Regions from separate parts of the Homo sapiens genome. Here region 2 is linked to region 1. The links come from fine-mapping of genetic effects on plasma protein levels. Region 1 holds a variant in brackets. A gene starts in the other region. All regions are shown on their reverse strands.

Region 1 (15,667 bases):
CAAGCATCGGCCTGAGGTGGACCCCGCTAAACTCTTCCACCATTATTGGGTACCGCATCACAGTAGTTGCGGCAGGAGAAGGTATCCCTATTTTTGAAGATTTTGTGGACTCCTCAGTAGGATACTACACAGTCACAGGGCTGGAGCCGGGCATTGACTATGATATCAGCGTTATCACTCTCATTAATGGCGGCGAGAGTGCCCCTACTACACTGACACAACAAACGGGTGAATTTTGAAAACTTCTGCGTTTGAGACATAGATGGTGTTGCATGCTGCCACCAGTTACTCCGGTTAAATATGGATGTTTCATGGGGGAAGTCAGCAATTGGCCAAAGATTCAGATAGGGTGGATTGGGGGGATAAGGAATCAAATGCATCTGCTAAACTGATTGGAGAAAAACACATGCAAGTATTCTTCAGTACACTCTCATTTAAACCACAAGTAGATATAAAGCTAGAGAAATACAGATGTCTGCTCTGTTAAATATAAAATAGCAAATGTTCATTCAATTTGAAGACCTAGAATTTTTCGTCTTAAATACCAAACACGAATACCAAATTGCGTAAGTACCAATTAATTATAAGAAATATATCACCAAAATGTACCATCATGATCTTCCTTCTACCCTTTGATAAACTCTACCATGCTCCTTCTTTGTAGCTAAAAACCCATCAAAATTTAGGGTAGAGTGGATGGGCATTGTTTTGAGGTAGGAGAAAAGTAAACTTGGGAGCATTCTAGGTTTTGTTGCTGTCACTAGGTAAAGAAACACCTCTTTAACCACAGTCTGGGGACAAGCATGCAACATTTTAAAGGTTCTCTGCTGTGCATGGGAAAAGAAACATGCTGAGAACCAATTTGCATGAACATGTTCACTTGTAAGTAGAATTCACTGAATGGAACTGTAGCTCTAGATATCTCACATGGGGGGAAGTTTAGGACCCTCTTGTCTTTTTGTCTGTGTGCATGTATTTCTTTGTAAAGTACTGCTATGTTTCTCTTTGCTGTGTGGCAACTTAAGCCTCTTCGGCCTGGGATAAAATAATCTGCAGTGGTATTAATAATGTACATAAAGTCAACATATTTGAAAGTAGATTAAAATTTTTTTTAAATATATCAATGATGGCAAAAAGGTTAAAGGGGGCCTAACAGTACTGTGTGTAGTGTTTTATTTTTAACAGTAGTACACTATAACTTAAAATAGACTTAGATTAGACTGTTTGCATGATTATGATTCTGTTTCCTTTATGCATGAAATATTGATTTTACCTTTCCAGCTACTTCGTTAGCTTTAATTTTAAAATTACATTAACTGAGTCTTCCTTCTTGTTCGAAACCAGCTGTTCCTCCTCCCACTGACCTGCGATTCACCAACATTGGTCCAGACACCATGCGTGTCACCTGGGCTCCACCCCCATCCATTGATTTAACCAACTTCCTGGTGCGTTACTCACCTGTGAAAAATGAGGAAGATGTTGCAGAGTTGTCAATTTCTCCTTCAGACAATGCAGTGGTCTTAACAAGTAAGCAGTTGAATGTATCTGTTCCATAAATATTAACCTAGAGCATAGCAAATGAATTCTAAATTCTCAAGTAGGAGGAGCTAAGAGCAAGAGAGCTGCAACCAAGCTACAAACTAAACTCTGAATTCAATGCACAGCTCCATTAATTTTGAAAGATGTAATGTTTGTTGCTATCTTAATATACTTTTGATATCTACAGCTTTAAAAAAATCATAGTGGAAAAACACCTGCAGGAAAGTTCCATGACTTCAAACAAATTCTGCTTCTAAATAAGCACGTAAAAATAAGTGAATATCAAGAGAAATTATATGACTAAATCTAAATCTTTAGAGAAAAAAATGAGAACTGAAAATAGTGTCACCATATGTGCTTTATTCTCATTTTTATAAAAAAAGTGTCAGCAGTTGATTGATTTAGGATTTGAATACTTAGAAAAGTGACTGATTGTTTGGTCTAGATTAGAATGTTGTTGTGAAGAGAGTCAGAAGTTTAATTTGTACTTCAAAAAGAATCTGTTAGAAGGATTTCTCAGAAGACTGAGAGCTTAGAAAAAAAACTGACATTAAATAAATAACAACAATTTATGGAAATTGTCTCTTTCTAGTCCCAACCATTATAGAATAGACATCTTTTGTTAAAGAATAAAACAGTAGGCTGCAAGATGGTGCTGTGTTTCACATAAACAGTGCTTTTTATTATTTTCACTGTAATAGTCAAATATATAACAACAGCAAAAGATTCTACATAAGGGAAAAATAGCTTACATTTAGGTACATTACCAAGTATTAGTCTGAAAACATCTACCTTTCAAACATAATTTAGATAATGAAACACAAAGAAGAGCAGCTCAGCGTGACCATAATCTTGGTTTCTTACTTTGTGGCTGAGGGCAAGAATATCTTTATATTGGCATATCCACCACCCCAGGGCTGTTGCTTCTGTTCTAGAGCACCCTGGAATCACTAATTACAGCATCACCCAGTATACAAGCCCCTGCATCACAATGTCTGTCCCTTAGCCGTAGACCTGTCACATGCTAATCATGTGTTCTAAGACCTTATTATAATCCTAATGCTACAGATGACCTCAGGGTAGCCCCTCTCCCTCCTAGCAAAGTCATTATTATCCTCTTTTAAAGATGAAGCAAACCAGTGCAGTGGCTCTCGCCTGTATAATCCCAGCACTTTGGGAGGCTGAGGTGGGCCAATTGCTTGAGCCCAGGAGTTCGAGACCAGCCTGGGCAACACAGTGAGACCAAGTCTCTACAAAAAATACAAAAATTAGCCGGGCATGGTGGTGCACACCTGTGGTCTCAGCTATGTAGGAAGTTGAGGTAGGAGGATCACCTGAGCCTGGGGAGGTTGAGGCTGCAGCAAGCCATGATCGTGCCACTGCACTCCAGCCTGGGTGACAGAGTGAGACCCTGTCTCAAAAAAATAAACAAACAAATAAACATGAAGCCGTCGAGGTCCCCAGCAGTTAAGTAAATTGCCACTGGCCAGCTAGTATGGTGGAAATGGAATCCAGGCATCTGGTCCTCCATTCTGGCACTTTTCCAAACTTTTGTAGGGGGCTTTATAGAAACGCTGAAGGGCAAATGGTGTGCAGGGGAATGAGGGTTTAGTGAGTAGGAGTTCCAAATTTAGAAACCTCACTCTCTGTATCTTTTAGATATACAAATATTTACCATATATTACAGTTGCCTCTAGTGTTCAGTACAGTAACATGCTGCACAGGCTCATAGCCTAGGAGCAATAGGCTAGACCACATAGCTTATAGCTTAGGTGTGTCAAAGGCTCTACCATCTAGGTTTTTTGTTTTGTTTTGTTTTGTTTTGTTTTTGAGACGGAGTCTCCCTCTGTTGCCCAGGATGGAGTGCAGTGGCACGATCTGGGCTCACTGCAACCTCCACCACCAAGGCTCAAGTGATTCTCCTGCCTCAGCCTCCCGAGTAGCTGGGATTACAGGCGTGAGCCACCACGCCCAGCTAATTTTTTTGTATTTTTAGTAGACGAGGGGTTTCACCATGTTGGCCAGGCTGGTTTCAAACTCCTGACCTCAAGTGATCCACCCTCCTCGGCCTCCCAAAGTGCTGGGATTACAAGCCCATCTAGGTTTGTGTAGGTACACTCTATGATGCTTACACAATAAAATCACCAAATCACACACTTATCAAAATGTATCTCCACCATTAAGCTATGCCTGACTGTGTATCAAAATGGAAGAAGAAGCTGGGCACAGTGGCTCACGCCTGTAATCCCAGCACTTTGAGAGGCCAAGGCGGGTGGATCACAAGGTCAGGATTTCCAGTCCAAGCCTGGTTAACACGGTGAAGCCCCGTCTCTATTAAAAATACAAAAATTAGCCAGGCATGGTGGCAGGCACCTGTAATCCCAGCTACTCAGGAGTCTGAGGCAGGAGAATCACTTGAACCCAGGAGGCAGAGGTTTCAGTGAGCCAAGATCACACCACTGCACTCCGGCCTGGGCAACAGAGTAAAACCTCGTCAAAAAGAAAAAATAATAAAAATAAAAAAAAATGGAACAAGATACTCAGGGATGTATATTTAATTTTTTAAAAAATATTCTGCTCTCATTTTAATATGGCAGAACCGATTGCTTTCTAAGTGTGGCTTTTTTCCAGTAAAGGTTAATTATTAAGACCACTAGTCCTGGCCTGGGTCAATCCCAGTATGATCCTGGGCAAGTAAATTAAAGAAGATAACTTCTCTGTGCCTCAGTTTTTTTTTGTTTTGTTTTTTGTTTTTTCATTTACAAAATGGAGATAATTGTAGTAAATCAAATTTTTAGAGGTGATAGGTTTGTTCATTTCTTGAATGCGGTGATGGTCTCCCAAGTCACACATATGTAAAAACCCATCACTTTAAAGATATGCAGTACGTTGTATGACAAGAAATTGCTTTTAAAAGGAGCAAACTACCTTCCAGGGTTGTTGTGAGGCATAAATGGCAATCCACAGCACCACAGCAAGGATTATCATGTGCCCTCCAGAGACATACTCTCAGGTGGATGCGAGAAATATCCAGCTGTTGCAGCAACTTCATCCCACTCGAAATCCAGCTGAGTCACACTCACAGGTGGAATGGAGGGCTTCGAGAGGCCATGGGGCAAGGTGACCCTTCCTTATCATCTAATTACAGACCTTCTCAAGGTCTGTTCACTGAACACTTCGCTGTAGTGTTCACTTAGGTGTAAGTAGGCTATAGGACTGGACATTTGGATATTTCATCAGTTCAAATAGTCCTGGGCGTGCTTTAGTTTCTCATGCTTTTGAGCAGAGTTTTAAAATAAGCCCCATTTGCCCCTACAGATCTCCTGCCTGGTACAGAATATGTAGTGAGTGTCTCCAGTGTCTACGAACAACATGAGAGCACACCTCTTAGAGGAAGACAGAAAACAGGTGAGTGGTGTTGGCAGTATGACTATCCAGTAGCTTTTGCCTATCAATTCTGTATAACAAATGAAATGCTACTTCTAAAAATACATCTCCATTTTTTGTTGTCATGGTGTGTGTACCTTTGTCATCACAGTATGATTTTATCGCTGGTCTCAAAAACTAAAAGATACCTTACTCAACAATCACCTAGACTTTCAGTCACTAACAAATTAAGAAATTTGTTGTCTGTCCTTTTAAAAAACATTTTCTAAGAAGATCTTTGTTATTTAGATTTAGCAGACATTCCTTTTCATTAGGCAGCTCTGTCTAATGGCTGACCCAACACTCATTGTCATCTATTTGTCTTCCTTTACTAAGCCAGCAAGTTTACATTTTCTTTTTACTTAATAAAATATGCATTTACTAGAAGGAAGTTGAATTGAATCTCATAAATATTACATACTTAAATATGAATGCTTTTAATTTTTTCTTTCAAAAGGTACACTTTAGTGTATTCATTAATTTATTTATAGTCCACTTGCTTCCAAAAAGGACTTATGATATCTTAGTTTGGTTTCTTATTGAAAAGAACTAGTAAATGCTGTAACTGAAACAGAAATTTGCTGGAAGTCCCAGAGACTAAGTGATTTGAATTTGCAACAAACTCTGAATTTTTGTGCATTTTTGAAAAATGCATTTTTCAAAACTGTCAATTCACGAGGAATTATCAGCATTGTAATTTGTCTGGGATAATGTCTTTAGTTTCAGAAAGTTTTGTGTTTGGCATCATTACCACTCTGTTGACATATAAATTTCCTCTTGAGCTTAGGAGGCTTCTCTGAGAGTCAAACATTTACTTTGAGAGTGGGCAGATCTTGCTTTACTTGGAAGGATACACTTACAGGATAGAAACACAGAATACTTGAACACTGAAGAATTTGAAAATGTCAATTCTCAGAAGATCTTGAACACTTATCTCCAAATGTGACACAGAAACTTACTGTAATAACCCCTAAAATCTGCTTGAATTACTTAGCACAAGAAAAAAATGAATGCTTGAGCTGGCTATTTTGAATTGAGTCAATTTAAGATTTTAAAATTCATATGTAGCTTAGAATCAGTACATCTTACTCTTTGGTTTATGGCAAATCATGGTATTGATGAGACAGGAACGAAATGTTGGATGTACGTTAATTTCCCCTACACCTTCCTCACTTCCTAAACTGGTGGTGTCTTTTCTTTTTTTTTTCTCTTCCTCCCCCGGGTGGGAAAAACAGGTCTTGATTCCCCAACTGGCATTGACTTTTCTGATATTACTGCCAACTCTTTTACTGTGCACTGGATTGCTCCTCGAGCCACCATCACTGGCTACAGGATCCGCCATCATCCCGAGCACTTCAGTGGGAGACCTCGAGAAGAT[C/T]GGGTGCCCCACTCTCGGAATTCCATCACCCTCACCAACCTCACTCCAGGCACAGAGTATGTGGTCAGCATCGTTGCTCTTAATGGCAGAGAGGAAAGTCCCTTATTGATTGGCCAACAATCAACAGGTAACTTTTCTTGTCTGCAAAGAAACTCAGAAGACTTTCCTACCCAGTTGGTAGATTCTGTAAAGTAGCTTGCTGTTGTCTGTCATCAGCTCTCAAAAAAAAAAAAAAAAAAAAAAAAAATAGATCATTGTCATGGTACATGGAGAGGGAAGTGAGAAAATGTGGAGAAACATCTTCCTTAGAATATGGTAAAGAAGCCCGGGCGTGGTGGCAGTAAAGAAGATAATTTTTTTCCTCTCAAGAAATTTCTCACCTGATTTGGGTATTTATGCATTTCTAATAACACAAGTTTTGTTGAAAATGTAGAAAATTGGCCGGACGGGGTGGCTCACGTCAGTAATCTCAGCACTTTGGGAGGCCGAAATGGGCAGATCACTTGAGGTCAGAAGTTCAAGACCAGCCTGGCCAACATAGTGAAACCCCATCTCTACTAAATATACAAAAATTAGCAAGGTGTGGTGGCATGCACCTGTAATCCCAGCTACTGGGGAGGCTGAGGCAGGAGAATCTTTGAACCTGGGAGGCGAAGGTTGCAGTGAGCTGAGATCAGGCCATTGCACTCCAACCTGGGTGACAGAGCAAGACCCTGTCTCAAAAAAAAAAAAAAAAAAAGGGCCAGGCGCAATGGCTCACGCTTGTAATCCCAGCACTTTGGGAGGCCAAGGCGGGTGGATCACGAGGTCAAGAGATCGAGACCATCCTGGCCAACATGATGAAACCTCGTCTCTACTAAAAATACAAAAATTAGCTGGGCGTGGTGGCATGCACCTGTAGTCCCAGCTACTCAGGAGGCTGAGGCAGGAGAATTGCTTGAACCCAGGAGGCGGAGGTTGCAGTAAGCCAAGATTGTGTCACTGCACTCCAGCCTGGTGACAGAGGGAGACTCTGTCTCAAAAAAAAAAAAAAAAAAGGTGGAAAACTGAACACTGTTTCAAAGTACCTTTAAAAATATAATTTTAGGGTAATAGTGTCATTGTTCTTAGCAGATAGAGGCTGAAGTACTTACGGGAACAGTAGCATCATGTTATCTGTATTTTAGTCTCAAGTCGTCAAGCCAGAGACAAATACCTAAGGGAAGGGTATATAGGTGTTCATTGTATTACTTTTTTTTTTTTTTTTTTCTTCCTGAAATGGAGTCTTGCTCTGTCGCCCAGGCTGGAGTGCAATGGTGGGATCTTGGCTCACTGCAACCTCTGCCTCCCAGGCTCGAGCAATTCTCTTGCCTCAGCCTCCCAAGTAGCTGGGACTACAGGTGCCCGCCACCACGCCCGGCTAATTTTTGTATTTTTAGTAGAGATGGGATTTTACCATGTTGGCCAGGCTGGTTTTGAACTCCTGACCTCAAATGATCCACCCGCCTCGGCCTCCCAAAGTGCTGGGATTACAGGCGTGAGCCACCACGCCCGGCCTTGTATCACTTTTTTTTTTTTTTTTTTTTTTAACTTTTCTGTAGTTTTGAAATTTTTCCAAATAAAATGTTGAGGGAAAAAAACTCTTCCCCAAATTTGAAATAATCATTTTATCACAATTTGAATGGGCTCTGTAACCCCTTATCTTGAATTCGTCATAATATAAAATTCTGCTAATTACACGTAGTATTTACATGATTGTATGGAAGAATCATTAAGACAATTATCTGGAAAATGAACAAACAGTAAATCTGAATATTGTTTGAAAATTACGGATGTGAAAAGTTTCCCTTTTTTTTCTAGTTTCTGATGTTCCGAGGGACCTGGAAGTTGTTGCTGCGACCCCCACCAGCCTACTGATCAGCTGGGATGCTCCTGCTGTCACAGTGAGATATTACAGGATCACTTACGGAGAGACAGGTACAGCAGTAAAATGCTATTTTACACTCTGATTAAATCAGATTCTGTTGTGGATAACCTGAAAGCCCAACAGTGAACAAAGAATTAAAGAAACTTTGGCAAGTCCATTCAACGGAGCCCTTGTTTTTTCCAAGAAAATACGTAAGATATAGATGATATAATTTGTTCTAAAACCCAAATAAAAAGTTGTTTATATACTACAACTAGAGGGGGAACGGCAGAGCTGAGGAAATAAAAGGATTGTAAATTCACAAACATATTATCAGTGGTGGAAATAAGTGATTTTTATTTTTTCTTCTCTTTACTTTTCTGTATTTTCCAAATTTTATTTAAAAGGAATGTATTCTGTTAAAAGTTTTAAAAAGGACACAATGCATGCAATCCTGGGTTGAGGGCTTACCTTCTCCCACTTCTAATGCTACTCTACTACTCAGTGACATTTTAAAGCTGAAATGTTAAAACAGCGCTAACTGTAATTTTCTCTCAATGTTTATACACTTACCAAGGTTTGCTACATGCATAAATACCCCTTTCTGTTCAAGATAGCGCTCTTTAAAAGGGAATAAGCAAGAAGATGTGATTTACATGCTGCTATAAATGTGGTAATTCAATTAATCAGTAATACCCAAGTAGCTCTAAACCCCTCACACTCTGAACTAACCCTTTTTCATACAGGAGGAAATAGCCCTGTCCAGGAGTTCACTGTGCCTGGGAGCAAGTCTACAGCTACCATCAGCGGCCTTAAACCTGGAGTTGATTATACCATCACTGTGTATGCTGTCACTGGCCGTGGAGACAGCCCCGCAAGCAGCAAGCCAATTTCCATTAATTACCGAACAGGTACAAACTTCTACTCTGGGGTGACACCAGCTTTTACTTATTCAGATACTGTTTTGCAATGTTCTCCCAAGGTATTTTTCTAATTGTAGAATAGATTTTCCTTTTTAATGAGCAACAACCTGCAGCTAGCACCTGCAGCGAACAGAGTTTTGAGCCAGATAAAGAAGGAAGCACCCCAAGGGCAGGAAGTTCAGTCAGTTTTGTCGATATATTCCGCATGTCTGCAATACGACAGGCATAGAGAGTGTTCAGTAAGTATTTGTGGGAAAAGAATGGATGAGTTGATAAAGTAGGAAGAGACACCTGCTTGTGGAATGTAGCTTCTTTGTGAATGAAGCAACCATCTCAAAAATAGGAAATGGTATTGAGATGCCTGCCCCATCCCTCTAAAAGCTCTCTCTGTATTCTTTCGAGAAGAAATACCTTTCTCATGTAAGCGATCATTCGAATATGTACCAGACCTAGAGAGGAGGACTTGTCCAATCTTGTCTCCAAGGACTGGGGCTTCACTGGTTTCTCCCTGCTTTTATTTGTAGAAATTGACAAACCATCCCAGATGCAAGTGACCGATGTTCAGGACAACAGCATTAGTGTCAAGTGGCTGCCTTCAAGTTCCCCTGTTACTGGTTACAGAGTAACCACCACTCCCAAAAATGGACCAGGACCAACAAAAACTAAAACTGCAGGTCCAGGTAAGAATCATCTGCATCTCGGCCAGGTGCGGTGGCTCACTCCTATAATCCCAGAACTTTGGGAGGCTGATGCGGGCAGATCACTTGAGGTTAGGAGTTCGAGACCAGCCTGGCCAATATGGCGAAACCCCGTCTGTACTAAAAAATACAAAAAAATTAGCTGGGCATGGTGGCTTGTGCCTGTAATCCCAGCTACTCAGGAGGCTGAGGCAGGAGAATGGCTTGAAGTCTGGAGGCAGAGGTTGCAGTGAGCCAAGATAGCCCCACTGCACTCCAGCCTGGGTGACAGAGTGAGAGACTCCATCTCAGGGAAAAAAAAAAAAAAAGAGTAATCTGCATCTCATATACAACAGGATAGATGGGGTAGGACCACCTAATATTCTTTTTTATATAAATGGCTACCTTGTTGTGAGTACTATGTATTTTTTTGTCCTATGTCATCATTGTCCCCATTCATGAGTTCAGGGCTCAAGATCATTATCAACCCTTTTCACAGTAGAAGTCTTAAGTGCATTTCTGTTTTTACATGGATAGTTCTATTTAGTGATATGGACATCTTAAATTACTAGATTCACCCTTCTGGTTTTGTTTATCATTCACACTAAGAAGAGATAAATGGCCTAACTGACTTTTTCAGCTCTTTTTAGCTATGTTGTCTTTGTTTTTAAATAGAATACTTGTGAAATTAGGATCTTAAGGCAATTTATTAGAGTCAAGTTAATTTTCATTTTTTCTGAGAGCAGTATCACTAATTGTTGGGGGCATCATATTAAGTTTTAGATCTTATCCTTGAGTGTGACTTCACTCCCATATGGTAATTTGTATTAGCAATGAACAGGTTTGTCCAAGAGGAAATCAAAGTCTGACTCTCCATATTTTTGTTACAATTCTGCAAATAAAAATTCTAGGCCACCATATGTTTACTACCAAACTCTAGACGCCACTTGAGGACTTTATAGTGGATGACGTGGATGTTGCATTTGCTTTTCACTCCCTTTGCAGATCAAACAGAAATGACTATTGAAGGCTTGCAGCCCACAGTGGAGTATGTGGTTAGTGTCTATGCTCAGAATCCAAGCGGAGAGAGTCAGCCTCTGGTTCAGACTGCAGTAACCAGTACGTAACCACTGCTTGGTTTCCATTTTCAAAGTCAAATTTTGTTCTTGGGTGTCTGAATGCCCACGACATGTCTTTTGCAATTACACATAGGGAAAGTGAACTTGTTGGTTAGTTTATGTCTTGAGCTGAGCCCTTTACGAACATCTTTTTTCCTTCTCAGTGCCAAGCGAGGAATTTACAGAGAAAGAAGTTGTGAAACCACCATAGTTAGTTGCTGTGCTTTGAATTTCTTTTGCTCAAATGGCCTCAGCGAAATCTTATTTGCCTATAGCAAATCTACAAAAAATTTTCCTAGACCGTCTTTTCTACAACTGGATGGTAAAGTTGATTGAAGTGTGCCTCATGTAGCTTTATGTTTGGGGCATTTGAAGGGCTATGGCTGGACCAGAGTGTAATATAAATGCTTAATAGAGAGGGGAAAAGAAGAGTGTAAGAACCATTATAGGGCTGGGCTCACGCCTGTAATCCCAGCATTTTGGGAGGCTGAGGCAGGCGGATCACGAGGTCAGGAGTTCGAGACCAGCCTGACCAACATGGTGAAACCCCATCTCTACTAAAAATACAAAAATTAGCCAGTCGCGGTGGCACGTGCCTGTAATCCCAGCTACTCAGGAGGCTGAGGCAGAAGAATCACTTGGACCCAGGAGGCAGAAGTTGCAGTGAGCCAAGATCATGCCTCTGCACCCCAGCCTAGGTGATAGAGTGAGACTCCATCTCAAAAAAAAACAAAACAAAACAATTATAACAATTTGAATCTGACATTGCAAATCAGCTTTACCACTTCCAAGGTATAGAAAATCCAGGTCTATGAGACTAACATCACATTGTAAAAATCAAATCGTGGTAGAATATCTTTAAATTAATATAAATACATCCCCATTGTGGGGACATTTTGCAGGGTATCTGCTTATCTCACATACACCTATGTTTTAATAAGTGATGCAACATTGCATATTTTCTAAACCAAGAAAAATTAAGCAAGTGTTTAAGTGATTTTTCCTTTTGATAGTGGGTTAATTGGACTTCATCAAAGAAAATGGTATCTGCAAAACTGCTTTGCATGTTATAAAAATGCTTATTTCACAACTTGCTTTTCACATAACCTCTTACCATTAATTTGCCTAACAGACATTGATCGCCCTAAAGGACTGGCATTCACTGATGTGGATGTCGATTCCATCAAAATTGCTTGGGAAAGCCCACAGGGGCAAGTTTCCAGGTACAGGGTGACCTACTCGAGCCCTGAGGATGGAATCCATGAGCTATTCCCTGCACCTGATGGTGAAGAAGACACTGCAGAGCTGCAAGGCCTCAGACCGGGTTCTGAGTACACAGTCAGTGTGGTTGCCTTGCACGATGATATGGAGAGCCAGCCCCTGATTGGAACCCAGTCCACAGGTATATGGTTAATTGCACCACCAGGTGCCCATGGGAGCAGCGGCTTTATGCCCTACTGAATGAATTATGCTTCACTGGGCTATTGATTCCCGTGTAAGGGTGAAAAAGAATTATTAGGAAAGATCCTCTTTAAAGAGGAATGGTAAGAAACAATAAAACTTAGGTGATATTTAAGGAAACAAGTCTGATTAAAAGAAATTTTGGAGTATCCTGGCTTATACACAAGACCATAAAGCAAGACATTTGAAGAGGATACTAAAGTTGTGGATTATTTCCTAAGCTCTGACTCCCTGTGATTACCCTCACTATGTATAAAGAAAAGAAGTTTGGCATTACAGAGCTTACTTATAAAAAGGAACCCAAACTCGGGCATTTCATAGCAGCATGATTCTGAGCACACGTGGGTAAGACCTTTCTTCTCTGGTTAGATATCATATGCTGGTGTATAATTAGCTTAAATGATTGTGATTTAGACACCTAGGAAATAATCAATAGGGCAATTGCTTTCCATAATACTTTATCTTCTTGTGCTTTATTTCTGAAGCAGAGTAGAATGCTAAAGATGTATCCTAGTGACAGCATAAACCCTAGAGGTGACAGTCTGTATTATTGCTTTTCGCTTCTCTTTTCTGCTTCTGTTGGGAGCCAGTTTTCTTCTTACGCCGCATTACAGAGAGAACGTCAAATTTAGCAGCCATATCTGCCATAGGGTCCAAATAAAGAGACAATAAAAACATTATTCTCTCTTTTTTGGATGGAATACTGCGTGAAATGGTTATCCATACAAAGATACTTTATGTAGAATAGAAAAAGGAGGCCGGGTGCAGTGGCTCACACATGTAATCCTAGTGCTTTGGGAGGCTAAGCCGGGAGCACTGATTGAGGCCAGGAGTTCATGATCAGCCTGGGCAATGAAGTGAGACCCCGTCTCTACAAAAAAATATGAAAAAATTAGCGAGGTGTGGTGACACATGCCTGTAGTCCCAGCTACTCAAGAGGCTGAGGTAGAGGATCACTTGAGCCTACGAGTTCAAGGCTGCAGTGAGCTATGATAACTCCACTGCACTGCCGCCTGGATGACACAGAGAGACCGTTTCTAAATTAATTAATTAACAATTTTAAGAAAGAAAAAGGGCCATTGCTTATTTTTCCATACAAAAGTAAAATAAATCATAATGGCCAATAAGCCAATGTAACTTTTTTTTTTAAGGGAAAGCAAAACTTGTAAAACCTAAAATCTCTTAGAGTTTTGGCATTTACCCAAATGTTTTCAGTGATTCTGAGAATTGGTGGATATAAAACACATTTCTCAGCAAACACTTTCTTCATTTTGCATCCCTTACTGTACGTACTTTCTTGTACTGAATCTTTGCTTGACCAGGGAACCCACCTAGCCCAACAAGAACAATCCATTCTACTTCTTGGAACTCACTTTATTTTCCTTTTCCCCCATTTCCTATAAGATAACCTCTAACCAATGACAATCTCGACAGCTATTCCTGCACCAACTGACCTGAAGTTCACTCAGGTCACACCCACAAGCCTGAGCGCCCAGTGGACACCACCCAATGTTCAGCTCACTGGATATCGAGTGCGGGTGACCCCCAAGGAGAAGACCGGACCAATGAAAGAAATCAACCTTGCTCCTGACAGCTCATCCGTGGTTGTATCAGGACTTATGGTAAGACATGACCGTTGTTCATTGGAATAAAGATGGAGATCATCTCTAACACAGTTTCTAAGGTGGTGAAAATATAATATCATAATAAATCTAACTGTTCTTTTCCTCTGCATCAAATAATCTTATTGTAATTTTATATCAACGGAATTCCTTTATGTTGACCTAAGTTTTCCAGATGACTATTGGGACAGAATTTTATAAATAGCTTTGGATTTTGTGCAGCTCTTTTAGATGTATTGTGCTTATTTTAAAAGGTTGTGGGGGGCAATTTACATATCCATTGGTTGAATGCATAAATCGACTTAGTTATGCATTTTCTGAGCTCTGTTACCTTGGTAAAGAATATTTTACAGTTTGTACCAGTCTACCTTGAGCCTACCCTCATTAAAACATTTTAAAATCCTTCCAGACATACATGCAGAAAACTGCTAGGAACCTAGGGGACTGATGTACCTCTTAACATAAGGCCAATTTCAGGGGAAACTACAGAAAGAGGGTTCAGAGACAAAATGGAACATTCTCTTTGCCTCTCTATGATAAGGAAAAAATTATGATTTACACCTGTCAGATCATAAAAAAGAAAAATACGCTAATACCCACTTTTCTCATTTTTTTTACCAGCTTAGTTTAAGTATATAATCTATGGCTTACTTAAGCTTAACCGCTAAGAGCATTTTAAAATTGATAAATACATTTATCACCTGCACTGTAGGAATGAAATTAATCTAGGAATTTTCAAGGTTGTGGGTTTTGCTGGTTTGTTTATTTTTTATTTTCTAACCATTGCATTTACCTAATGCTGTAGTGAAACTCCTTGGGTTTCAGTTGAGGACGTTGCTAAAGCTCACCATGCCCTTATTTCTCTAGGTGGCCACCAAATATGAAGTGAGTGTCTATGCTCTTAAGGACACTTTGACAAGCAGACCAGCTCAGGGAGTTGTCACCACTCTGGAGAGTAAGTAACAAAATGTCTTCATATGGACAAACCTTCTGTATAGACAAAAATTAAAGAATGGTAAATCAGTGGGGTTCAGTGGCTCATGTCTAAAATCCAAGCACTTTGGGAAGCTGAGGCGGGAGCGTCACTTGAGGCCAGGAGTTTGAGACCTACCCGGGCAAATAGCAAGGCCCTGTCTCTTAAAAAAAATAAAATAAATAAAATAAATAATTTTTTAGATTTATATGTTAACAGTGGAATGAGTCCTAATTTGAAAATCAATTTGATTGCCTTTTTGACGCATGACTGTCATCTTTTATACTCCTTCAGAAAGGGGTCTACTGACCCATAAAATGGAATCACTTCATAAGCTTATAATGTTGATATTATGGACTATGACTGACATCTAGTTTATGCTCTACTTGTTAGAATTTGTTTTCATAGAGCTAAGCTTGGGGAGACCCCACTGGCTTCTGCTATATCTTAACAATGCATATTAGGCCATTCTTGCATTACTATAAAGAAATACCGGAGACTGGGTAATTTCTAAAGAAAAGAGGCTTAATTGGCCCACAGGCCAGCAGGCTTTACAGGAAGCATGGTGCTGGTATCTTCTTGGCTTCTAGGGAGGCCTTGGGAAGCTTACTCATGGTGGAAGGCCAAGGGGGAGCAGGCACATCACATGGCTGTGGCAAAAGCAA
Region 2 (15,667 bases), not on the chromosome of region 1:
AGATGCTGAGAGAAGGAAGGAAGCCAGTCTGCTGCCACAAAGGAGTCAGGAAAGAGAGGGAACAAACAGCCAAGTGCTTCCTGCCCATACCCTTCCCTGCCTCTCCACCAACCTCCTCCAGCCTGTCCAGACATCTCAGGCCCAGGGCAGAGTAGGGAAAGGAGTGCAGAGACCCACACGAAACGCCCTCTAAAGCTTCCAGCTCAGCAGCCTTCATGGCAGAGGCCGGGGCTATTCTCACAGCAGCCCCTGCATCAATAGCTAGATGATCACTCCCATGTTAGCCAGTTCCAGAAGCTCCCTTACCCCAATTTCCTCCACCAAAGTGACCCGTTCCTCTCTGTTTCAAGCTTGCTTTCTCTGGCCCTCCAGTATCTGCAGTTGAAAGAGAACACCATGAGTTTGGGAAGGGATGTGGTAGTGGGGAGGGTTGGGAGAGTTGTAAGAACAGGCAGCCCTCTTCCCCAAACTGCTATCTCACCTCCCACTGCACTGGCAAGAGAGCAGGGGCAATCACACCTCACACACACACACACACACACACACACACACACACCCCCAACTTTAGCCTATTGACAGATCAGGATACAGATACCCCACCCATGCAAATACACCAACACAAGCATGTTCAGGTTTTCAGACCATACACACACAGAGAGGGAGATTTTCACCTCACAGGCACATTCACATCACACAGGATCTTTTCCCAGCCTGGCCAGCACAAATGGTGAACATGGGAAAGATGTAGAAACCTGGGTCAACTTGGGCCCAAAATATATTCCAGCTTTGGCCCTTCTCCAGGTCTGTTTCTCCATTCCTTGCTACTCCCCCAGGGCTTTCCCATGCAAAACACAGGAGAAGGCGGAGAGGAGGCACCTGAGGGTGCTCTGTTCCTAAGCTGTGATACTCAGTCAACTCTGTCTGGGTTTCTGGAACCCAGCCCCCCTCCCTGAGGTGATCACATGGAAAATGTCCAGCTGCGGTTGCTTGGAGAGATGAGCTCAGCCAGTCTGAGTGGGGCTGGGGGCCTGGACTCAGCGTCAGACTTTCCACTTCGGACCTTACCCCTCCTCCCACCTCCAAATACCACTCCAGGGATTCAGGAGCAGGAAAGGGGCCAAAGGGACTTCTGACACAAATGTCGCAGTCTTGGACTGGTTCAGAGGGGAAGGGTGGACACTGATGAAGGGCGGAACAGATCTGGAAGCACCTCTAGTCTGCTTCATTCCTGCCCACCCACTTCAGGGAAATAAATCCAAAGATGGACCAAAAAAGACAAGGGAGACTAGGTTGCAGTGTAATAAGTGGGGGGAAGATGACTTCAGAAATTGGTCCCCCGGGGTGGGAGTGGGAGGGCAGGGAACTCAAGAATAGATTCAACTCAATGACCCCAAAATGACAAAGGACATAGAAAGCTGGGTCCTAAATGGGAAGCTGGGGGTGGCAGAGGAAGGAGCAGACCAGTGTTACACTGCCTCTCATTGGCCAATGAAGAGTTCCTGACCTGGCAGGAGGAAAGGATTAGTCTCTCCATCCAGTCTTCCAAAGTATATTTCCCACTCTCCATGACTCTGCACCCCTGCCCTCCCTCTCCTCACGTTCCTTTCCCTCTGTCCCCCATCTCTATTATGCGCTTCCCCTTTCCTTTCTCCTTTCCTCTCTCCTACCATCTTTCTAGGATCCTCCTTCCTGGTTCCTCCACCCCCTTCTCCTTCACCAATCCCTTGCCCCTCTGTCTTTTCCTCTCGCGGAACCCTCTCTGTCTACCTCTTTGCTCTTATTTATGTCTCCAACCTCACCCATTTCCCCCTCCTTCTCCCTCCTTTTTCTCCCCAGCATAGCCCACAGAGCTTTATACATAGTAAGCACTCAAAAATATATACTACTTAGATCAATGGCACTTATTAGTTAATGTCCCTTGCACAATTCTAGGAATCTTAGAGCAGACAGATCTTTAGTAGTTAAAATGTTGGAGCCATGAAAGGTTTTGATCTGAGAAGTAACATCATCAGAGCCTTGGTTTAGGAAGATTAATTTGCCTGCAAAGAGTAGGGTGGATTTCAGGGGAAAATGAGACCCTTTTTTCATTTTCTCTCTTTCTTTCTTCAACTGTTTCTTTCTCTCTGACTTCTTCACCATCTGACAGGCTTCCCCACCTGGCCATAACTTCTTCTCTCCCTTCCATGAGTCTTCCCTCTTTCCTTGAGTTTTCCTTCCCTTTACCCCTATCCTGCCCTTCCTCCTCTCAACAACCCCCCTTCCTAGAACATCTGTAAGCAATTGGCTTGTAGAGAGGGGTAGGGTTGAGATTTCCCAGCCAGCTGTGGGGGTGTGGCCAGCCCTGGCCGACTGGATGGAAGAGTGTGGCCTGAAGGGAGGGCCACTCTCCCTAGAGGTGAAAGCTTGGAGTGCCATCCCACCGTTCCTGTTCCTAGGCACCCAGCCCTTTAATCAAACCCCAAACTTCTCTTCTTCCCAGGTCAATCTCATCACACACCCCTTTTCTATCTCAGAGACCTGGAAGCCCTAGCCCTACCTCCCAGTTCCACAATTCTGTCATCTGGAACCCTCTAGCCACATGTAGATTAGAGACTGGAAGAGGGTACCCAACCTCCCAACTGCTGGACATCTGTTGAAAGGAATATAAACTGAAGGGTCAGAAAGCTCCTCCTCTTGGCTTCTCCCTTAGGGCTTTGAAGTCCAATCAAGGACTGAGGCCAGAGGTCGGGGGTGTGGGTATTCAAAGGACAGAATGCAATTCAACCTTTACTGCAGGTAAGGTAGGAAGTCCAATATATTTTTGTACATTAGACCCAGAAGTAATCACTTGTGAATTGTGAATGTATAAACTGTATACAACATTACTTTCTTTTATACTATTATCTCAATTTAGTAAGCCTCAACCTTGGAGTCCAGGGGTTAAGAATCTTCTAAGGCTTTGTTCCTCCTCAAGTTATAGCTCTGGAAGAAAAGGAGGGGGCTCTGCTTCCCAGGAGTGCTCCATATTACTGGGCTCATAAATCTCAGCCCCAGAGACTCTCCATTTTACTTTTATGCACTGGCTGCTGGGGACACTTGGAACCTTTGCAGGAATTTCTGTAAACCCCACTTATCCCCTAGTTCAGCACCCCAACAGGTTAGCTCTCCCTGAAGAGAAAGGCAAGGGGATGGACCTATTCTTAGCCCTGTACATGATCTCTGGAAAACAAATGTGCTCATTGTGAGGTGATGATGGACAGGGAGGAATTTGCAGCCAAGGAAGGAGTGTATGTGTTTGGAGGTAGAGAGATGAGGAGCGCCAGAGGTCCAGAGAGCTCATGAGGAAGACTTATGAAAAGCAAGGAGAGGGACATGCTGTGCCCCATCCCCAACTTTGTGCCATTGTGTTAAGGACTAATGGCACACTATGCTCTACACATACACACACACACCCTGATTCCTACCTGATCAGAGATGCTGTTATCTCTATAAAGCCAGAAAGAGCTGAAGCTAGTAACATAGCATGTCTGGGTTTGGAGTGCAATCGGTGGCCCTCCTGCCTTCCTCCCCAACCTCTTTCCAATGCCCTTTCTGTCTGGGATTGATAATCCTTCCCAAGAGAGGGCTGGAAATGGCAGGCAGACTTGTGGAGGTGGGAGGGAACGCCTGGCTCATCCTCAACCCCTCATAGCCCCAATCGGATGTGCACTGGGAATCCTGGTGCTCCAGGTCCCTTCCTGATGGGCTCCAGATGTGCTTACATCTGGGAAGGCCATCCCAAGAAGCTGACACTCCCACCCACAGCTCCCACCCCGGATGGTTCTCTCCTCTGACTGCCAGGCCTTTGAGCTGAGAAGATTCAGGCACCCCTTTCCTCTCCAGAGGTAGGTACAAGGCAGCAAAGGGGAGAGAAAGGAAAGTCATGGGGGTGGCATGAGTAAGCAAATAAAATGAGGTCAATGCTTAGGACACCCCAGAGGATCTTATTTTCCTTTTAACTTCCTATCTGGGGTTGTTACATTTTGCCATAGCATTCTGGTGCCTCTAAATATGCCATAAATAAATAAATAAATAAATAAATAAGAAAAACTGAAGAACTTTTGGAAGAGAAGACATTAGCAAGAGTGGGGGAAATTCCTTCCCATTGATCTGCTTAATCTGGATTCCTGGGTCTTATATCTTGTATCCCAGTGTCCTCTTAGCTCTGCTCCTTTCCTGTCAGTGCCCATCCCCTAGTCCCTGTCTCCATGTGCCTCTCCAACCTAGTCTCGCCTGGAAAAACTCCCAGTTTGGTCTCCACAGAGGTATCTAGTCACAGGTTTTTTTTGTTTGTTTGTTTGTTTTGAGTCTGAGTCTCTCTCTGTCGCCCAGGCTGGAGTGCAATGATGCTATCTCGGCTCACTGCCACCTCCACCTCCCGGGTTCAAACGATTCTCCTGCCTCAAACTCCTGAGTAGCTGGGATTACAGGCTCCCGCCACCATGCCCAGCTAATTTTTTGTATTTTTAGTAGAGACGGGGTTTCACCATGTTAACCAGGCTGGTCTCAAACTCCTGACCTCAGGTGATCCACCCGCCTCAGCCTCCCAAAGTGCTGAGATTACAGGCGTGAGCCACGACATCTGGCTCTAGTCACAGTCTTAATCACTGGGTTCGGAGTCCTGGAGCAACAATAGAACCCACGAATCTTATTGCTAAGGTCTGCTTTTGTCACCCTAGTAAACATCTTCCATCCACCCCTCCTGTGCTCTGTGCAAACTGGGGATAGAAAAAGGAGAGGAGCCTGGGTTTATTTTAGGCATAGGACACAGGGGAGGGGTTTCTCCTGGGTCAGACAGCGGGTAGGGATGGTGGAGGTGACTCACAGATGATAGAGCCCTCAGTTCCTCTAGGCAGAGACCTGAGTCAGAGAAGCAACAGAGCCTGAGGGTGCAAATGGTCTACTCCTGTACTTTCCAATTTCCCTTTCTTAGACATACACGCACACACACACAGAACAACTCCCCAGCTTCAGCAGTCTCTGGATCCTGGTATAACTGGGCTCCTATTCTACTTCTGGAAATCCCCCCACCCCCGCCTTCAGCTTCATAATTTTCCTAAATATCCCACCTTCCTTCCCTCTGTGAGATCCAACTTCTTTGTTTGCTTGTTTGTTTTTGTCTTGTTTTGTTTTTGAGATGGAGTCTCGTTCTGTCACCCAGGCTGGAGTGCAATGGTGCAATCTCAGGTCACTGCAACCTCTGCCTCCCAAGGTTCAAGCAATTCTCCTGCCTCAGCCTCCCAAGTAGCTGGGATTACAGGCACCCACCACCACGCGTGGCTAATTTTTGTATTTTTACTAGAGACGGGGTTTCACCATGTTGGCCAAGCTAGTCTCAAACTTCTGACCTCGTGATCTACCCACCATGGCCTCCCAAAGTGCTGGGATTACAGGCATGAGCCACTGCACCCAGCCTAGGAAGTTTTATTTCATGGACACCTCAGCCTCTACCACCTCTACCCAATCAGACTTTTTACAGCCCAACAAGACCTGAGTCTGTTTCTTAAAACCAAGGCATCCAGCCTTAGTGTTCTCAGAATTTCCAGGCATTTGAGAATCTTAAAGAAGCCACTGAGTCTCACCCCAGAGAAATCACATGCATATAAACAAAAACTTCCATCCAGTTTCAGAGGATTAATGGATTGTATACCCAATCTTCCCCCACCCCACCCCAAGGACAATGGATCTAGGTTATAATTCCTACTCTAGAATCTTCCCCCATACCTCTGTAGAAACCCAGCCGGTTTACAGGGCTGACATTGCAGTGGGAAAAGCAACGGCTCTGAAATCTACTGGGATTGGGTTTGGATTTACCTCTGCCCCTTTCTGTTGGCCTTCGCTTAGTCACTTCTCTCCTTTAGGCTTCGATTTCCTAACAGTAAAATGAGGATCATGATACCTTCAGTGCTGGATAAGTTGGGATAAATGGGATAGAGGCAGATTAAAGGTCAAGCCCAGGGCCAGGAATACAGCATGTGCTAAATAAACCATTATCAGTACTCCCCACCCCTCTTCCACACTACTAAAATTCAGCATGACCCCTGGCGTTAGAACTTGCACCTGTATCCTGAACTCCTCTGTGGAAATTCACTCTTGTGGTTCTAAAACTCCAGCCTTCAGGGCAAGCAGGCTGGCGACAACAGGAGCCTGCTGAGTGTCCTGGCCTTGCCCTTCACCCTTCTTCCTCTCCATCAAGCAGACCATGATTAATAATGGTCAGTCATCACAGCAAATCATTCCTACTGAGCAATGAAGGGACAGAGGGTACCAAAGAGGTCAGGTTTAAGAGAAAAAGCAGAGGCACTTGGAGACACACAAACTTGGCCAGAGAAAGGCTGAGAGATATACAAGATAGAAAGAAAAAGCTGAGAGGAGATAGATCATTTAGAGGGGCAGTGGGCTTAGAGGAGAAGGCACTGGGTCTGGAGTCTAAACACTTAGGTTCTAGGCTCACCGCTAACTGGCTAGCCATATGACCCTGGACAAATCACTTCATCTCTCTACACCCATTTCCTCTTCTGAAGGAGAAGATTGGACTGATGGCTTCTATCCCCTCCTCACTGGCCTTTCTAGGTCAGCTTCCAGGCCTGGAGGTCTGTGCTGAAGTAGCTCTAATTAGGAGGGGACCCCAAGTTAAGGACGAACCCAGAGCAGAGGAAGAGAGGATCAGGCAAAGGCAGGCATGGTGAGAGGAAAGGCAGGAGGTGTTGGGGCCACTGGGAGAGGACTTATAAGGGCAGAAAGAGCCAAGAGAGGAGGGATATTGGGGAGAGTAGAAAGGCCAGCCAAAGAATGACTAAGGGGCTCCCGGTGTAAACAGGAGCAGGGAATGGACAGGGAGGGGGCCTGTTTGAGTTGGCCAAGGCTAGGGGTGGAGTGGGGAGGAGGACTGGGGCAGGACGCTATGTCCCCTGTCCCCCACCAAGGCTCCTGGGAGGAGCTGAGTCACACACCTCCTTCCCTGCACCCCTCCCCACCCCCACCCCTAATCTCCCAAATCCTGGGAAAATCTAAAGAGTTTGCCTAGACTGAGAAAGGAGAGTGTTTGGTTCACACACGTGTTTTGCTGGGCTAAAAAGCAATCAGGCCTCAGCCCTTCTCCTCCCAAAGGGGGTTCCCAGCCCATGGCTTGAGTAGCTCTCACCTAAAGGTTGCCTTTTTGGCAATGCTGGGCTTAAAGATCCTGACCCAGAGATTCCCTGGGTTCCTCACCTAAGAAAGGGTCAGGACTTGCAGATGTGAGAATGGGATACGGGCCAGCATTGCCCCACAGTCTGGCCAGCCAGCCTCTCCCTTGGGCTGCAGCTGGCTCTGGAGGGGGGCTTTTAAAAAAGCAGATGGGTGATTTGGGACAGGAAGTGGAGTAGCAGAGTGAGGGGGAGAGTCATGGCAGGAAAAAAACATTGACTCTGGGCACTCTTATTCTGAGCCTTTCAGCCCGAAGTGGGGCAGGGGACTGGAGAACAGAAGGGACAGGGTTGACAGGATATTATTGACAGGGTATTATTCTGGAAAGTGAGGAGTCCTGGAGGAAAGAGACTGAAAGGACTTGTAGTCCCCTCCCCCAGACTAAGATAAAGGCTAGAATCCTGAAAAGTGATCTCATCACACAGAGCCTGAGCTTGGGGAAGAGGTGGGCAGGGGGTCACTGCCTTCCCTTTCTAGAGTCCCTTCCTCTACTTCCACAGGGGAATCTGGGAAGAATGGGGTCCTGGCTTTCCGCTCCCATTGTTTTTTTGGTTTTTGGTTTTTGGATTTTTTTTTTTTTTTTTTTTTTGGATACAGTCTTGCTCTGTCACCCAGGCTAGAGTGCAGTGGTGCAATCGCGGCTCATTGCAGTCTCTGCCTCCTGGGTTCAAGTAATTATCCTGCCTCAGCTTCCCGAGTAGCTGGGATTACAGGTGCGGACCACCACATCTGGATAATTTTTGTATTTTTAGTGGAGATGGGTTTTGCCATGTTGGCCAGGCTGGTCTTGAACTCCTGGCCTCAGGTGATCTGCTCACCTCGGCATCCCAAAGTGCTGGGATTACAGGTGTGAGCCACCGTGCCTGGCCAGAGCTCCCAGCGTTTACAGCCATTAGGAGCTGAAGGTTGGGTCCCTTTGCAAGACTTTCCACCACCACCACCACCTCTCACAATTCTCCAGGTTTGTAGGAACCCGGCCAGTTTAATCAAGCAGGTACTGAGGGGCCAGCCACTCGCAGGCTTTTGGTCAACTGTCAGATCCAAGGAAGGGGCTCAGCAGAGGTTTACATACCCTAGGACCAAGAAGGGGGCAAACTGGAGCAGAATCCTCCTGATGAATGACCCCAAACTCCTGGGTTTTCAATACTAGCAAGCTTGGAGGAGGAAGCAGCGGAACTTGAGGAGCCCGTGTAGGTCCTCTAGCAAGCTGACTGCGAACGCTGTCTCTGTACCTCAACTGTTGTGTCCCAAATCCAGCTGGCCAGAACCCAGGCACCCGGCGGCCCCGGAAGGCAAGGGGGAATCCCAGTTGGCCGGACGCCAGAGGAGTCTCCTGTCTCTTTAGACCCCAAAGTCTCCTCCCTAAAGCACTGAGGGAGACCCCACACACATATACAGGCTTCCTCCGCCCACCAGAGGTGATTCCTTTCCTCATTAGGAAATTCTCCGCTCCCTTTTCCGACTCGTTTTCCGAGCGTTTACGTTGTACATCTGGAAAGGAATGGGGAGGAAGGAGGGGGAAGCAGAGAGGAGGGGGAAGAACCCAAACCCGCCCAGTCTAACCCAGTCCAGACAACCGGCTTCCAGCTGGGGCTGGGGAAAGGGGGTTGGAGGGGTGCGCCCCCCCCCCACGCCCCTTAGGGGTGGGGGACGCGGGCTCAGAGTTCCAGGGACCCAGGAATGCCCCCCCGCCAGCCCCCTCGGCAGGCGGGGGGAGGGCTCAGCCGGGAGTTTGGCAAACTCCTCCCCGCGTTGAGTCATTCGCCTCTGGGAGGTTTAGGAAGCGGCTCCGGGTCGGTGGCCCCAGGACAGGGAAGAGCGGGCGCTATGGGGAGCCGGACGCCAGAGTCCCCTCTCCACGCCGTGCAGCTGCGCTGGGGCCCCCGGCGCCGACCCCCGCTGCTGCCGCTGCTGTTGCTGCTGCTGCCGCCGCCACCCAGGGTCGGGGGCTTCAACTTAGACGCGGAGGCCCCAGCAGTACTCTCGGGGCCCCCGGGCTCCTTCTTCGGATTCTCAGTGGAGTTTTACCGGCCGGGAACAGACGGGTGAGTGAGGAGGGCTGGAGACGGGATGGGGGTGGGGGAGCCGCCTGGAGACTGGGGGCGCGGCTGGGGTCTGGAGGGGACCAGGGCTTAAGTTTGAGGGTGGAGTTTGTAAGGAATAGAGCTGCAGTTGGGGGCCCTGGCTAGAGTTGGGGGCCCGCGCTGGAGTAGGGAGGGCACCGTGGCGGGTGAGGAGGGGCCCTGGCGTTTGAGATCAGTGGGGAGACATGTGTCCGGTGGGGAGAGGACACGGAGCTGGAGAAGTCTGGGCAGGGGTCTCCGGGCCAAGGGAGAGGAGAGCGCGTGAATGGAGAGCTGAGGGTCTCTGGCTGAAGTCTGTGGGCTGCTGGGACCTGGGGCGGGTGGGGGCGCAGAGGGGGCGCAGAGGCCGGGAAGGGCTTTTGGGGGCTCCAGGAGACCTCGGGATCCGTAGGGGCCATTGTGCGGCGAGAGAACGGGTAGAAGCCGAATGAGCTACGTGTAGTAGGAGGAAAGTCAAAGACTGAGGGGGTCGGAAGGTTAAATGGGGGCCAGCCTCATCCTCCCCTCCCCCCTCAACTCAGACCGGGGAAAGACCCGAGAGAGGACGGCGGCTCCCTCTCCTTTCTCCTCTGTCTCCTACTCCTCCCTCCGCCCCCAATCTCTGTTCAGGCGAGGGGATCCGAGAACTGGGGGCGAGTGCGGGGACCCTGGCACTGGGGCCCTGGGGCTGGGGGCGAACTCAGCCAAGGGCGGGTGCTGGGATGTGTCGGGAGGGGTGTGTGCGCGCGTGAAGGGGGGTGGGCGGTTTCCCTCTTCCTCTGGCTCTTGGGAGGAAGAGAAAAGCTGGTTTCCTGTAGCTGGTCGGCTGGAGCTGTGCTGAGACCGGGACTTCTGGGGCTGGGGTCGGAAGCTGGGGAGACGGGGGCTCCGTGGGGCCAAGAACGTCAGAATGAAGGACTCAGGACCCTGGAAATCTCAAAGGAGGATCCTTATTCCCAACTCAGCACAGTGATAAGCAGACCCGGACCCCGAGTGCCTAGAAAATGGGGTACTGACAGGCTTGGGAAACAGGAGTTAGAGTGGAAGCAACATTAGAACCAAGGGTGTCTGTTTAAATGTGGGATGGCGGGGAGATTGGGAAGCAAGAGAGGTAGGTGGTTGCTCCTGGGCTAGGCCATAGATGCCAGATTCCTGGTCCTCCACAATGACTGGTGTAATCCTTTTTCTTCTACATCTCTGAGCTGGGAGCTTCCTACTGCTCACCCCCACCCCAACCCCAGGATCTCAGGGTTTGAGGGGAATTCTGTCAGAAGCGACCTGTTTTTACACATGAGACAGTTAACTGATCTCTACTCAGTCCCTATAGTTTTTGGAGAAAAGGGGTTAATCTAGCTAATACAACTGGGGAGAAAGGCAAATTCTCCTTTGTCTGGAGGACTTGGGGATGGGAGAAAAGAAAAATGATTAGGCCCCGACTGTTGTTCTGGGCTATTCAAGGTCCCCACCCAACCCCCACCCCACCCCCCTGGCCTTTTGCCCAAACCCCATTGCATCATCACCCTGGCCTGGAGCCTCTGCCAGGCCTGGTCTCCCCCAGGTTCCCTCAAACTTCTTATCACAGCCCTAATGGAGTAGAAAAGAGGGAAGGAGGAAGGGGATGAGGTCTCCTCCCGCAGATCAGAGTATCTAGTTGTCTGGCATTTAACCTTCTCTTTACTCCCCCCTCCCCTAAATTTCCCTTTAAAACACTCCTCTAAAACATCTGGACTTCACACATTCCTGGTCCCCTAGGTGTCTGTCTGGCCCCTGGCCTGATCCTGTAGTCCCTAAAGTCCTCTTCTAAAACAGGACCTAGCTCTCTCATCCCTTCCCCCTCCCCTTCTGCTCATCTCCCCTCCCAAGAGAACCCAGGTGTCCAGCTTGCACTCCTTCCCTCTCATTTCCTATTTACAATACCCTCTTACAGTGGAACATTCTACCTCCCCAGTGACCTCCTCCCACCACAGCTAGGCCTTCACCCCCTTTCCCACAACACAAGACAAACACAGCCCCTCACCTACAGCCATTGCCAAAGAGGGAGAGCCTCAGTGTTCTTGTTCTTCCTGCATCACCTCTTGTGGTGAACACCAAAATAGTATTAAAGGACAGGGCGAGCACCAAAGCAGTTAGATGGTAGGAAAGGGCAAAGCTTTCAGTCAGACAGAGGTAGGTGTGAGTCCCCACTACTTACTAGTTTTTTGCGTGGTACCCTAGTACCTAGGGAGAGGTATTTAAGCTCTTGGAGCCTGGTCTTCCCGTGAAAATCAGACACCTGACTAACGGAGTTCTGAGGACTAAATGAGAAAACATATACAAAAGGAACCTGGTCCACAGAGAGTGATCAATACATGGGCGGCATGGTTTTTATGGGGTAGCTGTTTCTGTTTCTGGTTCTCTCCTTCCTGGCTACCGCCTAGTTCCCTCATTTCTTACTTGCTTTGAGTATTTGCTTATACTAGTGATAGTAACAATAGTCTGTCATATTCCTTTAGCACTTTCATATCGATTTTTCCATTGGATTGTAACAAAAATCCTTGTGTTAAAGCAAAGGAAGCATTATTGCCCCATTTTTAGATATACAAAAACTGAGGCTGGCCAGGTGCAGTGGCTCACGCCTGTAATGCCAGCACTTTGGGAGGCGGAGGTGGGTGGATCACCTGAGGTCAGGAGTTCGAGACCAGCCTGGCCAACATGGTGAAACCCCATCTCTACTAAAAATAAAAAAATTAGCCGAGCGTGCTGGCACGCACCTGTAATCCCAGCTACTCGGGAAACTGAGGCAGGAGAATCCCTTGAACCTGGGAGGCAGAGATTGCAGTGAGCTGAGATCACATCTGTACTGAGCGACCCCAGACTGGGCGACAGAGTGAGACTCCATCTCAAAAAAACAACAACAAACAAACAAAAAATAAAAACAACTGAGGCTTCAGGAGTCATAGAAATTTTGAACCAGAAGTTAGTTTAGGAAACATTCAAGGGAAATCCATCATTTTATGCCAGAGAATCCAAAGCTTGAAGAGAGGCAGTGACTTGGCCCAGGACACTTGAAAGCTTGAGAGGCAGGCCAGTCTCAGCTCAGCTCCTTGTTCCCTTCTGCAACTGCCACAAGTGGAGACAGCTGTTCTTCCCCAGCCAATCATACATATCCCTTGTGAATGCACTAGGGGACCCCAAACCAGGTGTCCTCCTCTGGCCTGGCCCATGCTGCTGTAGGACCTGTAGGAGCTGGGCGCTGGTCCACTTGCTGCTCTCCACCCCTGACCTTGTCAGGCCAACAGAGTCAAACAGTAACCCAGTATTGAACTGGGACTTGGTTAATCAAAAGCTGGGGAGATAGCAGATATGAGAGGAGGGAATAAGTTGGCAATGGGGTAGACTAGAATGCTGTCGTAGAAATCAGGATTCCTGATTTCTGCTTCATATTCTGGGAGGGATTATGAGTGACCTAAGCCCATTACTTAACTCCTCTGAGATAGTTTTCCCATCTGCAGAATGAGAACATGGGACGAGGTGAGCAGCTTTGAACTTTTTCTTAGGGAGTGTCAGAACGAGGCCAGTCTGCCTTTATGCCATGTGGCCTCAGGCACCTACAGTGAAGTCTTAAAACCAGTGGATGCTCTCTACAGTGCCTTCTAGCTGTGGTAGTCTGTGTCTCCAAGGACCAACCCTTCCATTTCTGAGGCTTCAGAATAAATTCTGGCAGTTATTTCTTCTCTCAGACTCTATTTCAGAAAAGTGTACCTGCCAACCTGCATTTAGTAAGAAATAATGAATTCCTTTTCTCATTCTTTTTATTTTTATTTTTTATTTTTTTGAGACGGAGTTTCGCTCTTGTTGCCCAGTCTGGGATGCAATGGCGCAATCTCGGCTCACCGCAACCCCCACCTCCCTGGTTCAAGCGATTCTCCTGCCTCAGCCTCCTGAGTAGCTGGAATTACAGGCATGTGCCACCACGCCCAGCTAATTTTGTATTTTTAGTAGAGACGGGGTTTCGCCATGTTGGTCAAGCTGGTCTCAAACTCCCGACCTCAGGTGATCTGCCTGTCTCAGCCTCCCAAAGTGCTGGGATTACAAGCGTGAGCCACCACGCCTGGCCGTTGTTGTTGTTGTTGTTGTTGAGAAGGAGTCTCGCTCTGTCTCTGGACTGGAGTGTAGTGGCGTGATCTCGGCTCCCTGCAAGCTCCGCCTCCCAGGTTCATGCCATTCTCCTGCCTCAGCCTCCCTAGTAGGTGGGACTACAAGCGCCCGCCACCACGCCCGGATAATTTTTTTGTATTTTTAGTAGAGACGGAGTTTCACCATGTTAGCCAGGATGGTCTCGATCTCCTGACCTCGTGATCTGCCCGTCTCGGCCTCCCAAAGTGCTGGGATTACAGGCGTGAGCCACCGCACCTGGCGCTTTTCTCATTTTTTATTAACCAAAAACATCTATAGCTGCCAATCAGAGTTTCTGACCAGCATGAGATAACCAGGTTCCCACATAAGTTGATATAATTCCAGCCAAAAGCAAATACACTTGAGGTTTTAATTAGCCTAGGCCACCTTATCTGGTAAATGCATGATTTCCGTTAGGCTTTCTGAAATATTGAAAATAGCACACGGACCCTCCATTGTTACCTTCTTAGACCCCTAAAAGTGCCCAACTGCTGCAGGATTTAGGAAGCAGGAAAAAGATGTGGGAAAATAAGGACAAACTAGCTTGCATGCCATCCATGGCACCAGTCACCTCACTTGGCGTGTTGGCAGGGGAGGCACTATTTATTGGATTGACTTTAGGTTGCTGGGATGGAAGGGCCACTGCCTGTCCAGGAATAAGCCATGGGTAGTGTGCCGGGAGGAAAGGAGGCCTAGGTCTGTGTCCCTTGCCTGCATGCCAGGTATCCTGAACCATCGCACAGCCGGAATGGATATGCCCCTGGCTTGTGGGCTTTACAAGCTTTGTAAACTCTCTGTCTTGCAACCCTGCTAAACTCCAGGCTACTTCCTCAGGCCACCCCAGGAGTGTCAGGCTCAGCTCCTCTCCAAGAGCAGTGGGTGTTGGAGAAATTGGCAGCAGGAATAGGGTCCCTTGGCCTTAGCCCTGTGCTCCAGGAAACTTTGAGAGAACCTCTTCTTCACCCAGAGGAAGAGGGAGAGGGTATTGCCCAAGTCCACAGTTAGTGCCTGAACCAGAACTCTTGGCTCCTGGTCCAGTGCTCCTTTCACTGCTTCCTGTACCTCTGCTGTTCTGGTCTAGTTCAGGTTGGTGGCCCTTTCTGCTTTCTAGAGCCTGAAGGCAGCAACCAAGTTCTCTGGGGGCTGCCCCTGCTGAGAGAGGGGTCTCCTTCTCTCACATCACCCAGCCCTAGGGCGGTGCAGCCAGACCCCACAAGTGGATGTCATGCCTAAGTGAGAAGGGTGGGGCCTGGCACGGAGGTGGGGGTGTGGGAGACAAACGGAGAAGTGAGAGGTTGGAAACAGACAGGAAGCCACAGGCAGTAAACATTTCCTGTCCCCAGAGTAACGGAGACTGGCACCTCCCCTCCCCACCCCTCCTAACTTCAGGAGCTCTCCCTCTTCAGCCTACCCATCTCCTATTCCTCTGGACCCTGCCTTCTCTCCCCTCCATTCTCACCACTGGCCCTCACAGACCCCTCCTCACTCTCCTCTTCCGTCCCCTCGGACCTGTCCTCTCTGCTGCTTCCATCCCCTATACCTCCTGGGCCACTCCTCCCCGCCTCAGTATACCTGGTCTTCTTGGAAAATACCCCCAGCTCTTGTGACCTCTACCATAATCCTTCACTTTGGGCCTTCTTGCCTAGTGAGAAAGCTGAGGAAGGTATTCAAATATCAGGGAAAGGGTAGGTATTGGACGGGTTGAAAGCTGAAAGTGAACAGAAACCAATAGAGATGGAGAAATGTAAAATCTGAGATAGAGAGATAGGATTCAAAAACCAAAACCAAGAGAGCAAGCAGTCATAGGGGCAGAGGGACAGAGGGATTGAGAAGCAGTGCCAGAGGCAGACACAGAGCAGAGCAGAGGCCAAGGCTGGCAGGAGCACTGGTCCAGAGGCTGGGTCGAGTTGCCCAGGCTGCCAGATACAAGTCCTGGCAGGAGACCCTTAGGGGAAACCAAGAGAGCCAAGAGCGGTGTGGAGGTCTTGGAGGCAAGAGACCTAGGGATGAATGAGGCAGAGCTGACGGCAGGAGGACTGCCCAGGCCCTTAGCTATGACCACCCCATTACACAGGGCAAACTTCCCCTCATATCAGGGGGAACAGAAGCACTGTGTCCAGAACTGGGACCCCGGTAGAGCAGACTCTGAATTCAGTCAGCTGGGGGTGGTCTATGGGAAAGGGGTTCAAGGGCTGAAACACAGACCCAGCCAGGAAGGGGAGGCCCACACCAGGGCCGGGGTG

Direction of the effects. Alleles are on the strand shown, and positions count from the first base shown. The strength of an association depends on the size of the effect and on how common the allele is.
For the plasma level of the protein whose gene starts at base 8,966 in region 2, allele T in region 1 goes with a lower level than allele C (moderate association).

Evidence for each region. PIP is the chance, under the fine-mapping model, that this variant and not a neighbour inherited with it causes the effect. Protein levels are from antibody-based Olink assays in UK Biobank. Linkage for the fine-mapping came from a reference panel and not from the study's own genotypes, which makes the PIPs less certain.
Region 2: it holds the start of ITGA5, and the variant in region 1 is fine-mapped to the plasma level of the ITGA5 protein (UK Biobank, PIP above 0.99).

The regions. Positions count from the first base shown.
Region 1 is chr2:215,377,492-215,393,158 of GRCh38, reverse strand. It overlaps FN1 (fibronectin 1), which reads left to right. Exons shown (of 46, transcript NM_212482.4): 25 at 1-228; 26 at 1,345-1,527; 27 at 4,858-4,947; 28 at 6,201-6,470; 29 at 8,183-8,299; 30 at 8,975-9,139; 31 at 9,676-9,831; 32 at 10,834-10,947; 33 at 12,079-12,348; 34 at 13,842-14,029; 35 at 14,897-14,984. Among named protein-coding and RNA genes, the nearest start is that of FN1-DT, 50 kb to the left of the region's middle. RefSeq lists an enhancer at 763-1,962. The variant C/T (reference allele first, on the strand shown) is at 6,344.
Region 2 is chr12:54,412,565-54,428,231 of GRCh38, reverse strand. It overlaps ITGA5 (integrin subunit alpha 5), which reads left to right and starts at 8,966. Exons shown (of 30, transcript NM_002205.5): 1 at 8,966-9,251. The coding sequence starts at 9,034. GPR84-AS1 (GPR84, ZNF385A, ITGA5 and GTSF1 antisense RNA 1) reads right to left here. Exons shown (of 4, transcript NR_120487.1): 3 at 307-375. RefSeq lists an enhancer at 15,217-15,667.